3 linked regions of the Homo sapiens genome follow. The protein of the gene in region 1 purifies or fractionates together with the protein of each later gene. This does not show direct contact. Each region holds a gene or a part of one and is shown on either strand. Other genes may lie near its edges.

The links.
Region 2: the proteins of LRRN1 (region 1) and ST7 purify together in Homo sapiens (affinity purification with mass spectrometry; one large-scale study listed by BioGRID and IntAct). This does not show direct contact.
Region 3: the proteins of LRRN1 (region 1) and SYT12 purify together in Homo sapiens (co-immunoprecipitation; one large-scale study listed by IntAct). This does not show direct contact.

The regions. Positions count from the first base shown.
Region 1 is NC_000003.12:3,797,813-3,801,558, forward strand, and holds the start of LRRN1 (leucine-rich repeat neuronal protein 1 precursor), read left to right. Parts: upstream 1-1,618; 5' UTR 1,619-2,107; intron 2,108-2,888; exon of another isoform or gene 2,889-3,063; intron 3,064-3,152; exon of another isoform or gene 3,153-3,434; intron 3,435-3,746.
Region 2 is NC_000007.14:117,219,001-117,222,646, forward strand, and holds part of ST7 (suppressor of tumorigenicity 7 protein), read left to right. Parts: intron 1-83; coding exon 84-176; intron 177-2,922; coding exon 2,923-3,062; intron 3,063-3,646. UniProt on the Homo sapiens protein: May act as a tumor suppressor.
Region 3 is NC_000011.10:67,043,619-67,047,264, forward strand, and holds part of SYT12 (synaptotagmin-12), read left to right. Parts: intron 1-19; coding exon 20-235; intron 236-974; coding exon 975-1,095; intron 1,096-2,024; exon of another isoform or gene 2,025-2,090; intron 2,091-2,125; coding exon 2,126-2,259; intron 2,260-3,646. UniProt on the Homo sapiens protein: Synaptic vesicle phosphoprotein that enhances spontaneous neurotransmitter release but does not effect induced neurotransmitter release. Unlike other synaptotagmins, it does not bind Ca(2+) or phospholipids.

The sequences.
Region 1 (3,746 bases):
TCCAAAACCTGGAGGCTGTTCTAGATCTGGCCTCCCAAGAGCAACTCTCACCATCATTAATTGCTCCGACTGCTCCTCCAAGACCTACCTCTGTAAAGCTCCTCCTTGAAGGGCACAACCTCATCTCTCTTCCACTCCCAGGAAGGCAGGCTGGAAACCTAATAGAGACTCCCTAAGAAACCTGCATTCTATCTTTCCCTGACCATTCAATTTCCGTACTTCCACCAGAGCCCAACTTCTATCAGACAAACTCCATGCTATCTGCATGCTAACTCCATGGATAATCTGCATGAAAAGGGGGGAAAGAGACAAAATCATGTTACAAAACTTGGGCAAGGGTCTAGACTCAACTTGCTTTGAAAGATCTTAAATCTTCCCATTCATTTGTAGACAGCAGTGGGCCTTTTTCTTCCTCTGCTCTGCACGACCTTCTAGCCCAAGTGCTAGTATCACCTTTTCCTAAAGACTTTTAAGACAAACTGTGACCATTTATGTCTACATGACACAGTTTCAGGATAACAAAGTGTGAAGACACACAAAGACGTCAAACATTTATCAGAGACCTAAGCGAAACGCCAATAAATGTTACAGGGATCAAGAATATGGTTACTGACATTGAATGTATCCTGTGGCTTTGAAGAATCCAAAGGATGATTCTCGAATAATGTATCCTTCCAAATTCTCCAGAAGTTCTAAGTTTAGACATCATAATGAAATGTCACCACGTTCCTCTGCCAGAAGTTGTTCAGTACTGAGGGGCTAATGATGCTTTCGCTTAAAGCCGATTCCCCCAATAAAGGGTGCCAAGGCTTTTCTGAAGCCCTGCTTCCGGCTGGCGACTTTGAAGCTGAGACGCAGGTTCACGCGCAGTTTCCGAAGACCTATTCCGTCCCCACCCTCCTCCCCTTCCTCGGAGACACCTCCACTTAACACTGCCTTCTCAGTCCCTCGCCGCCTGTTTAAACACAACTTCCACCCCTCACAAATCAGAAAGCTGTAATTTCAAAGTTTCAGAAACGTTTTCGGAAAGCCTCCTCCAATGGGAAGCGACTTCGCCGCTGAGTTAAGCGTCCGAATCCTCCTTCCCGCGGCAGGGACACCGGCCCGGGCCAGGTCTGCGGAGGACGCCCCCGGGCGCGCACACACAGCCCGAGGACGCGCCCTGTATTTTAAGACGCAGGGTCGGATTTCACCCCGAAACTTGGCTCCCACAGCCCCAGGCCGAACTGTGTCTGGTTCTCAGCCCCCGAGCCCGAGTTCTACGCCGCAAAGAGATGGGGCCCCATTGTGCCTAGCTGGCCTCCTAGCACGGACGTGTATTTTCTTTTGGTCTGTCTTTTGCTAAAAACCGGCAGTGCGCTTCGCCTCCCTGCCCAGCCGCAGCCTGCCGTCCCCTAGACAAAAAGCGGCGACCGCGGCCCGGCCACCCGAGCCCCGCCGCGCTGCGCCTTTGTTGGGCGGTCCACAGATGGTGCCCAGCACGGGGCCGCGCCGAGGGCGGGGGCGGGAGGCCGCGAAGAGGGTCGGGCGGGAGGGGAGGAGACGGCGGAGCAGCCAATCCGCGCGCGGCCCATCAGCTGACCGCCTTTGCTTACACCAGGTGCACGCCGGCTGCGGGGAGCACAAAGCGGGGCGCACCGCGGGCGCCGGCAACGAGCCGGTGAACGAGGCGAGGCCCGTGCGCCCGCGGCTGCAAGCGCCCGCCTGGCGGGGAGAGGGGCCGACGGCGTCAGCCCGGGCGGCGGCATCCCTAGGCGCCTGGGGCGCCTTCCTCCGGACCTGGCCGCTCGCTGCCCCGCCCTCTGCACCCCACTTCTCCGACCCTCCTTCCCAGTCCTGCCTCCCCCTGCCCTGGCCTCTGAGAGCCGACTGAGCCCAGCCCCGTGCAGCAGCGGTTGCCTGTGTCGCCGCCTAGTCTCCGGTCTTGGTGCTCTCCCGGGGGTGCCCCAAGGAGCCAGTGCGCGCTGCGGGCTGGGAAGGAGGCGCCGCTCAGCTAGTCCTCCTCCTCCTCCTCGTCTTTCTCCTCCTCCTGCTGCTGCTGCCGCCGCCGCCGCCGTGGGTGCCGGGTCCGCGCGCACCCCAACACCCCCACCAGCTGGGCCTCGGGGTAAGTCCCTGGCCGGCCGCGCCGCGGCAGGAGGTGTGGGAGGCAGCGAGGGGAAGTCGAGGCAAACTTGGTGGCGTGGGAGACCCTACGGGGTCTGGGGAACCTCAGGGTAAGATCGCGGGCCTGAGGGGGACGAGGGGGCGCGGCTCACGGAGCTGGGGAAAATGACGAAGTCGGGAAACGAGAATATAGTGCCCCGTTTCCCCCCGTCCCCCTTGCCAAAAAAAAAAAAAAAAAGGTGTGGGAGAGCGATAGTTGGGAAGGCAGGCCAGATAGAAACAGGCAAAAAAAGGCAGTGACCGGAGCCGAGCCTGCTGGATTTCAGGGGCCGACCAGGGGAGGGAGGTGCCCGGGGACGGGGAGGGAGGAGGGCTGCCGGGATGTGAACCGGGGAAGGCAGCTGGGGCTGGAGAGCAGCGCGGAAAGGGGGCCCAGGGAGCTGGAAAGAGGGCCAAGAGGAGGGCAAGGAAGGTGGCGGGCGACGGGGAGAGGAAAGAAAAAGGGTGTCTTGGCGGTGGCCTTGGTAAGAGAAAGGGGCAAGGGGTATAATTGACAAGGCACTGAAAGTATTGAAGTCAGAGCCTTGGGAAGGATCTACCGAACTCTCGGCGGTCCACGCGGGGACAGACCTCAGCCCGTGAGCCTTGAGCTCCACGCGGGGACAGACCTCAGCCCGTGAGCCTTGAGCTCCACGCGGGGACAGACCTCAGCCCGTGAGCCTTGAGCTCCACGCGGGGACAGACCTCAGCCCGTGAGCCTTGAGCTCCACGCGGGGACAGACCTCAGCCCGTGAGCCTTGAGCTCCACGCGGGGACAGACCTCAGCCCGTGAGCCTTGAGCCCAGAAGGAGTGGCAGCCTCAGGACGTTTGCCAGGTGGCCTGGAATGTGAGGGAAGCCTCAGCCCCGCCAGGAACAGAGCTGGCGCTGAGTTCCCGGCTCGGCCCGGGTCAGAAGCGAGGAAAGTTTGCCGGCGAGTGTCCTTTGTGCTGCGTGGAGAGGGGTGTGGGCGGCCGCCGACTCGGCGCTTCCCCGCCGCCCGCCCAGGGAGTCCCTGCCTGGCAAGCTGGGGCTCGGGGAAAAGTCCAGCAGCGAGAGGGCCGCGTGTCCCGGGACGGTTCCAGGGGAGCCCGCGCGGAAACGCGGACCAGGCGCTTCGGCCCGGATGCCGGATCCAGGAGAAGGGGACCTCGCTTGCCGTGTCCACCGCCGCGGCCCCAGCGCCAAGAACAGAGCCTGGCCGTGAGTGAACGACTGGCCGGGGTACAAATGGTTCTGAAGCACTTGAAGCTCACAGGCAAAGGCTAAGAGTCTAAATCCCATCCCGCCGTAAGTATTTTCATTCCCAAACCTAAATCGTAAAGGAAAAGTGGAATTCTAATTGGGTGAGGGAACAGGTGCTGCCGACTCTGGCTTTTGCGTGGAGGATTTTCTAAAAGACAACATGTTTTGTTTTGTCTTGCCATGACAATCTAAATCATGTTAGTGGAATAGGCTCATTATTTCATTTTTAAAAGCTAGGGCTGGAGGAGTGGAAAGTTCAGGAAGGCACTTTGATCAGTATAAATCTAGAGTAAAAGTGTTATTGGCTCCAGGGCCATATGTGTCCCGAAGTCTCTGATTTGCATGCAAATGTGAGCG
Region 2 (3,646 bases), on another chromosome or scaffold:
AAATGCTCAAACGCCCCTTTTTGCAGTTGGGAAGTTATGACACAAACATTGGACATCTCTGACATATTTTTTCTCGTTTTCAGCTTTTCGGATGATCCCTTATCCCTTGGAAAAGGGGCACCTATTTTATCCTTACCCAATCTGTACAGAAACAGCAGACCGAGAGCTGCTTCCATGTAAGTCTCACCTCTCTTCAGCCAGTGAGGGTGTGTGGTGAAAGGTGGGGATTGGAAGAGGTGGGAATATCAAAGTTTAGAATGCTCCTTGTCTTTTATTACTTTTCTCCAAACCCCTGTCCTTGTTTGATAGCATATGTATTAAAGTGAATTATGTGAGTGGGTTTGGCTTCCTTTTCCTCCAAGTCTCTCCAAATTTATCAAAGGGAAAGATGCCAAAGGATTGAAATGTAGCTGAAGAAACCCTATGTACTGATTGGCCTGAGCACAGAGACCCCTGGTTTGGGCTGGTGTCTGCTGGGCTGGTCCATTGTGAGGGTTCTGCCTGGGCTCTTCAGCTGGACAGATGTGGTCTGCACCGACCGGAGTTTGAAGAGGAGCTGCTGACTGAGAGGGAGCTGCGCATGAGTCATGGGTGGGAGGCCAGCACCAGGAAGCTGGCACCATGGCCAGATGTGGAGTTGTGGGGCAGGGCAGTGTGCTGTGTGGTGAGGCTGTGCTCTGGCAAGAGGGATTTCCCGTGAGCACCTCGTGGGTTGCATGTAGTGACTCGGAGTACCATGTGCAGAGCACACGTGTAGCCTCAGCACTGTATGAAAGCACACAAAAGAAAACCCTGCCCTCGACTACCTTACACTTGCTAGCAGTCTAATGACCCATACCACATGTGGAAAATATTATTTTGCTTTGCTGTAATACAACATTGTTTTGACAATTCAGGCTAAATGGTTATTATCAAATCATACTATGTACAAGGATCATGTCAGGCTCTTCATGTGGCCCAGACTTAGGATATATTTTTCTCCCTCAGATAATAAGCTCCAAATTTTAGCTCTTCTCCCTTCTCTGTCCTCTCTCCTGCCATCTCTGCCCTTTCACCAGCCCCAGTTATATCAATATCTTATAGCTGTAACATATAAGTACTTTCCCCAGAGGAACAGTGTAACCTTAGAGCCCTGGGTGCATAGTAAATTTCCAAACACCAGCATCATCAAGCCAGTCATGAATCTCCAGCATGGTGGGATCTGGGTGCAGAACTCAATGGCTGTCATCAGATTGAGGTAGCAGGAGTTGCTCACTTGCCTTCCTGCCAGCCAGACCCAGTGCGAGATTTGTTACTCAGGGAACTGGGAGATCCCCGTGATGTGTTTCTCACCGTTCGAGTTTGATTGTGAAAAGAGTCTGGTACCTCACACATTAGATTTGATTTCAGAAATCCTCACCGTGGGCCCATAGTTTACCTTTCAACTCCCCCTTCAGGGAGATCCTTGTTAAGTTTCGGTTTTCTGGTAAGAAAGGCAGTTTTCTGAAAAGTACAGTATTTTTAAATGTTTTAATCGAGTCCAATTAAGTTTCCATGGGGATAGATTAGTTATTAGAACAAGATTACAGTTCTTAAGAGAAACCTTATAGGGATAATCTTTATAAGCCTGAAATAGGAAATTATGGCTCACATTAATTGAATGCAGTGCTCCAAGTCTGGTCTCCCTCCAAAATCTTTTTTGGTTGGATGTTAAGGGTGAGGATATGAAGAAGGTAGGTTGTTTTAAGTGCTACCCATAATTTGCACATTAAAAGTATAATTATAGCCACACGAGGCCCTGAGCACACTTGTTCCGTGTGTTTGAATCCCAGCAGGCTGACCTACCTGGATGTAGTAGGCATATTCGTCTGCATGGAGTTCCTCCTGGATTCCCTCCACCCTCAGTATTAGCCTTGTGGATTACTGTTGAAGACTCTGAGGAATAGGAGCTGAATGGTAGAGGAAAGGCCTCTAGATCTTGTATTCCCTGAGGACCATGGAGCCCTCTGGTCCTCTTGGTTAGAGTGGGCTGTTTCTCACGTGCAGTTTCACAGCCTCTCCCCCAGCACCCCCAGCAGGTGGCTCTTTCTCCTCCTGCAGGCCCGCCCCATCGACCCAGGCAGTCTCTCAGGCAGCCTCATCATGAGCACAGAGAAGGAGGCGATTCTCTTGACCTCTGTACCACAGCTTTTTGGTTTTCCCAAACCCAATGTTTGAAATATAATATAAAAATTATAGAGGGCACTCTAAAGAGCACCAGCTTTTCTTGTTTTTTTGATGATTGTTGGAAGTGTATTTGTCATCAAGAGTCTCTTACAATTGTGCCAGATAACCCTAGCAGTCTTGACCTTCCCTCCTTGCAGTTTGAATAGACCTACATGTGAGGTCCTTGCTGGATATCTCTCTATGAGGGTGGCACCCTCCACTGATATACTTAGAGGGTGCCAGGAAAAAATACAGGAGAAACTAGTATCATCTCATTATAATGATTTTTTAAATACAGGAAGGAAAAAATATAGACGGGATACCTTTTTTCCCTGTATACTCGGTTTTGGATTTTCCAGGTTTTGTACAATGAACACGTGTTTTGTAATTTGAGTAAATTACAAATTGTTTCAGCTGTGTTTGCTTTTGAGAAAAAAATACTATACATTAGGCATAGGCGGTGCTCCTCTTCCCTCCCATGAAGGCGTGACACCCTCAAATCAGCCCCCTCCTGCCTCAATTTAGAGTGCTGAAGGCTGGATGGAGACTTGCGACCAGCAGATGGGCCTCCAAAGGCTGGGTCAGATGTTGGCTATGGTTTGTCAGGTGTGCTATTTTTTCATTTCCCATAGGCTTCCAACTCTTTCCCAAGCTCTGGAGTCAGTGCCACCATAAAGACCTCCCCTGAGAGTGCAGTTTACTCCAGCCCTGATATTTCCCTTTTGGTCTTCTCCACAGCTTTCCATGAAGTCTCAGTTTACCCAAAGAAGGAGCTTCCCTTCTTTATTCTCTTTACTGCTGGATTATGTTCCTTCACAGCCATGCTGGCCCTCCTGACACATCAGTTCCCGGAACTTATGGGGGTCTTCGCAAAAGCTGTGAGTGTTTGCCTAGAGGGAGGCCTTGGGGAATGGATGGGGAAAGCCAAGGGCATAAAAGCAGCGTGAGAGAAATGGGGTTGCCTTACAGAAATGGGTACGAGCCTGCAAAGATCATTGCTCACCATTTAATTTTCATGATCGTCAATGGAATCAAAGCATTAAGGGTCAAATGAGAAAGTGCAGGTTGTTACTGCATGCCTTGCCTCATTTCACAACAAATTCTTAGCAGTTTCCAAAAAATGCAGGAGGTCCAAAAGGATGGAATGATTTAGGAAATCCTAGCAAATGAAAATGTGTGGGAAGTTACTCGGTTTTCTGTAAATTGAATGACATTATTTCCAATCGTTGGATATTGTGGGTCTTTCCTTAGTGAAGGATGAGATTTACATTTTCAAAGATGATTTAAATAATTTTTTTTAATGGCTGCAAACCCTTGGCTTGTCTAAGGAATGAACAGAGGGTGTAAAGGGCTTATTAAGAAGTAAACTGAAATGACATTTAGAAATATGGAAATCCATTAAGAGTCTTTAAGGAGCTTGGGGAGAGGAGCTTTAATAAGAAAAGCCATCTGCATTGACAGC
Region 3 (3,646 bases), on another chromosome or scaffold:
ATGGCCTTTTCTCCTGCAGATCCAGAGAAATGCCTACTCCATCTTCTTTGATGAGAAGTTCTCCATCCCCCTGGATCCCACAGCCCTGGAGGAGAAGAGCCTGCGGTTTTCTGTATTTGGCATCGATGAGGATGAGCGCAACGTCAGCACGGGGGTGGTGGAGCTGAAGCTTTCTGTGCTTGACCTCCCGCTGCAGCCCTTCAGTGGCTGGCTCTATTTACAGGACCAGAACAAGGTAAGTGACTTGCCTGCTCGTCCACCTCGGAAGAGCGTGCACACACATACACTTCCAGGAAGGGACTCCATCATCCTCATCATCCTCTGCAATAGCCTGAGCCCCATCATCATTAGGAGAGCAGAGAAGAAGACCTGAGCCACATCCGAGGAAACTGCTTGCTGCAGGCAAATTTCAAAAACATCCCGACCACTGTTTACAGCTCGTCTGCTGCTTTGCCACCAAAGCTTCAGAGGTTCTACCCCTACTGAGCTTCTGCTAGAGAAACATTCCTCTAGCCTTAGAGGGGATGATTTCAGACAGACACCAAGCTGCACTTTAGTTTTATAATTGTAGGAATGCTCACAGAACATCATTGTTGTTTAATCAAAGAATCTAATTCCATTCCACTCTGATCGCTGTGTATTACTACCGCAGTGTTTTCCTTGGCCTGCAATGAGGGAACGAAACTACATTTGATAGCTACATTTGACAGGCCGCCTCTGACCCTCCGCCCCAGGCAGGACCCTCCCGGTGGAAGGGAGGAGTGGGGCATGCTCCATGCAGTGGCGGGGGGTGGGTGGCTGTCCCTTTCTCCAGGCTGTCCCTGCCTGCCTGGAGCCCTGTGGTAAGGGGCCCCCAGTGCAGCCACTTCTCTATGGAGAAGGAAGCCCCAGCCTTTCCCTGGCAACCAAGGCTTTCCCTGGACCCCTCAAGTCGGGTGGGGAGAAGCCCTCTGAGCCACCTGTCTGTCCCCCAGGCCGCCGATGCTGTGGGGGAGATCCTGCTCTCCCTCAGCTACCTCCCCACAGCCGAGCGCCTCACCGTGGTCGTGGTTAAGGCCAAGAACCTCATCTGGACCAACGACAAGACCACAGCGGGTAAGGCCCAGCCGGCAGCCCGGCTCCTCCACGTAGCTCAGTGGAAGCTGTGGCCCAGCTGCTGTGCTGTGGGCACCCGGAGGCATCGGCAGGTGTGGGACACAGTGCCAAGGTCCCCCTCAGCTTTGCTGAGCCCAGAAGTCATGCAGATGGATAGGGGGTGGCATGGGGACAATTAATCCAGCCGGGGAAACATGAGATCCCTGGAGGGTGGCAGGGGCCCCTGTGAGGGCAGAGTGAAGGGGGTCAGAGTGATGCGGGGGTCTCAGGGCAGGAGGCCGCACTCAGGGCTGGGGGCACTGGGCAGGGAACCAAGGTGGGCATCTGTTCCCTGGAACTGGAATTCATGGTGGAGACTCCATTCCCAGAGACAGGGCAGTATCCCAGACTCCAAAAAGGGACCAGGGCCACGGGGTTGGGGTGGGTGCCAGGCAGGACCCGATGCCTTAGGTCTGCAGGAGTCCCCAGTCCCTCTCAAAGCAGTGACCGTGGAGGCAGCTGTATTCTAGAGAACTGAAGACCAGGGGCTGGGGGAGCCTGATCTATTGGGAGTTGCAAGCCTTGGGGCGGGGGTAGGTGGGGGGGGCAGCTCCAGGCAGGTGCGGCAAGGACACCCCGTGGGCAATAGGTGATGGGCAGACGGCAAGTTGTTATTTCAGAGCCGCACACGGTTGAGTCAGGCTCTGCTGTGCGGGTGCCCGGTGACTCAGGGCTGACGTCTGCACTCGGGCCATTTATAGAAGGAACACGGTGGGGCTGCTGAGTTCCCCAGAGCATCCTAGGAGGGGAGCGCGTGGGCTGTGAGGCAGCTGCCTGAGCACAAAGCCCAGCCCTCACCTGACGTGCTGTGTGAGCCTCAGTTTTCTCATCTGTGAAATGGGAAAAATAATAAAGGACCAATGGCAGGGCTGCAGGAGGTCACAGCAACAGTTAAGCATTGGGGAGTTTGGAGTCGGTGGGTGGAGCCAAACTGGGCAGGGCTGTGGTGAGTGAGTGTGACACTGGCCCTCACCTGTCCGCCTGCCCACAGACCCCTTCGTCAAGGTGTACCTGCTGCAGGATGGGAGGAAGATGAGCAAAAAGAAGACAGCCGTGAAGAGGGATGACCCCAACCCGGTGTTCAACGAAGCCATGATCTTCTCGGTGCCAGCCATTGTGCTCCAGGTGAGGGGGGCTGGGGGATGGGAAGGGGCCAGGTCACCCCAGGGCTCTGGGGCTGCCGCATCTCTCCACCTTCTCTTCTCAGGGCCCCTGCAGGGGTAGTGGTTTGCCTCCAGCCATCACTTTCTAGCAGTTATTGAGTGCCACTGGGGCCAGCCCTAGGGTGGGTGCTGGGGACACAGGCATGGCTTTCTCGGTGCTCACAAGGGACAGGCAGGAGAGTCCCTAATCCACTAAGAGTGTCCTCAGGTGAGGGGGGATTCCTGCAGGAGGGGATACCCAGCTCTGAGGGAGGACCATTCCTGGTGGAGGGAACTGCAGAGGGTTGGAGAGGAGCTGGGGTGAGCCAGGCACCCAGAGTTCCTGCTCTGAATCTCCCAAGCTCCATTTCAGGGTTCTGCTGAACTCCCCAGGTTCGCGTGGTCTTCAGAAGGTGACATGCTCCAGGGAGACCTCTCCCAGCAGGGACATCACAGACCACGGGTGGGGCTTGAAGATAGGGCTTGGGCCCTGCTTGCATGCCTCGGAGGATGGGGCTCGCACCACCTTCCCTCACTATCTCTAGCCCTCCTCGGCACTCCTGACAATGAGAAAGTCCTTTGTGCCTTGAGCCAAAACCTGCCTCCATAGCCCCAGGGCTGTACAGAACCCGCCTAATCTCCCCCAACCCGGGGACCCCGCCAGCATGTAAAGGCCCAGAATCTGCCTCACTCTGAGTGTTCCTAACCCGGGCACACCCCAGCATCTCTGGCCCATCCTGGGTATCGTAGCCTTCACCTGCCACCCTCGTGGAGCAGGCTGCCCATGTGTCCTCTGCCTCTCCCTGGGTGTCATAGTGCCACTTCTCCACAGCCTCTAAAAGCAAGAGACTTCTTGGGACCATGGGGGAAGTGGAGGAGGAGAGAGATCGGGCTGGGTTTGAGTTTCAGCTCCCGCTCTCATCTCAAGCAGTCTCTCCCGTCCTCGGTTGTGAGTGCAACGTGGTGATATTAGTAATAGCAACGCAACCTCTAGCATGTTCTGACTGTGCGCAGGTGCCGTTCTACACAGTTCACTCTTTTTGTTCCTGAAACAGCCCTATGAGATAGAAACCAATTTTTTTTTTTTTGAGACAGAGTCTCACTCTGTTGCCCAAGCTGGAGTGCAATGGTGTGAACTCAGCTCACTGCAACCTCCGCCTCCTGGGTTCAAATGATTCTTCTGCCTCAGCTTCCTGAGTAGCTGGGATTACAGGCACCTGCCACCACACCTGGCTAATTTTTGTATTTTTAGTAGAGATGGGGTTTCACCACGCTGGCCAGGCTGGTCTTAAACTCCCAACCTTAGGTGATCCACCCACTTCGGCCTTCCAAAGTGCTGGGATTACAGGTGTGAGCCACTGTGCCCACCC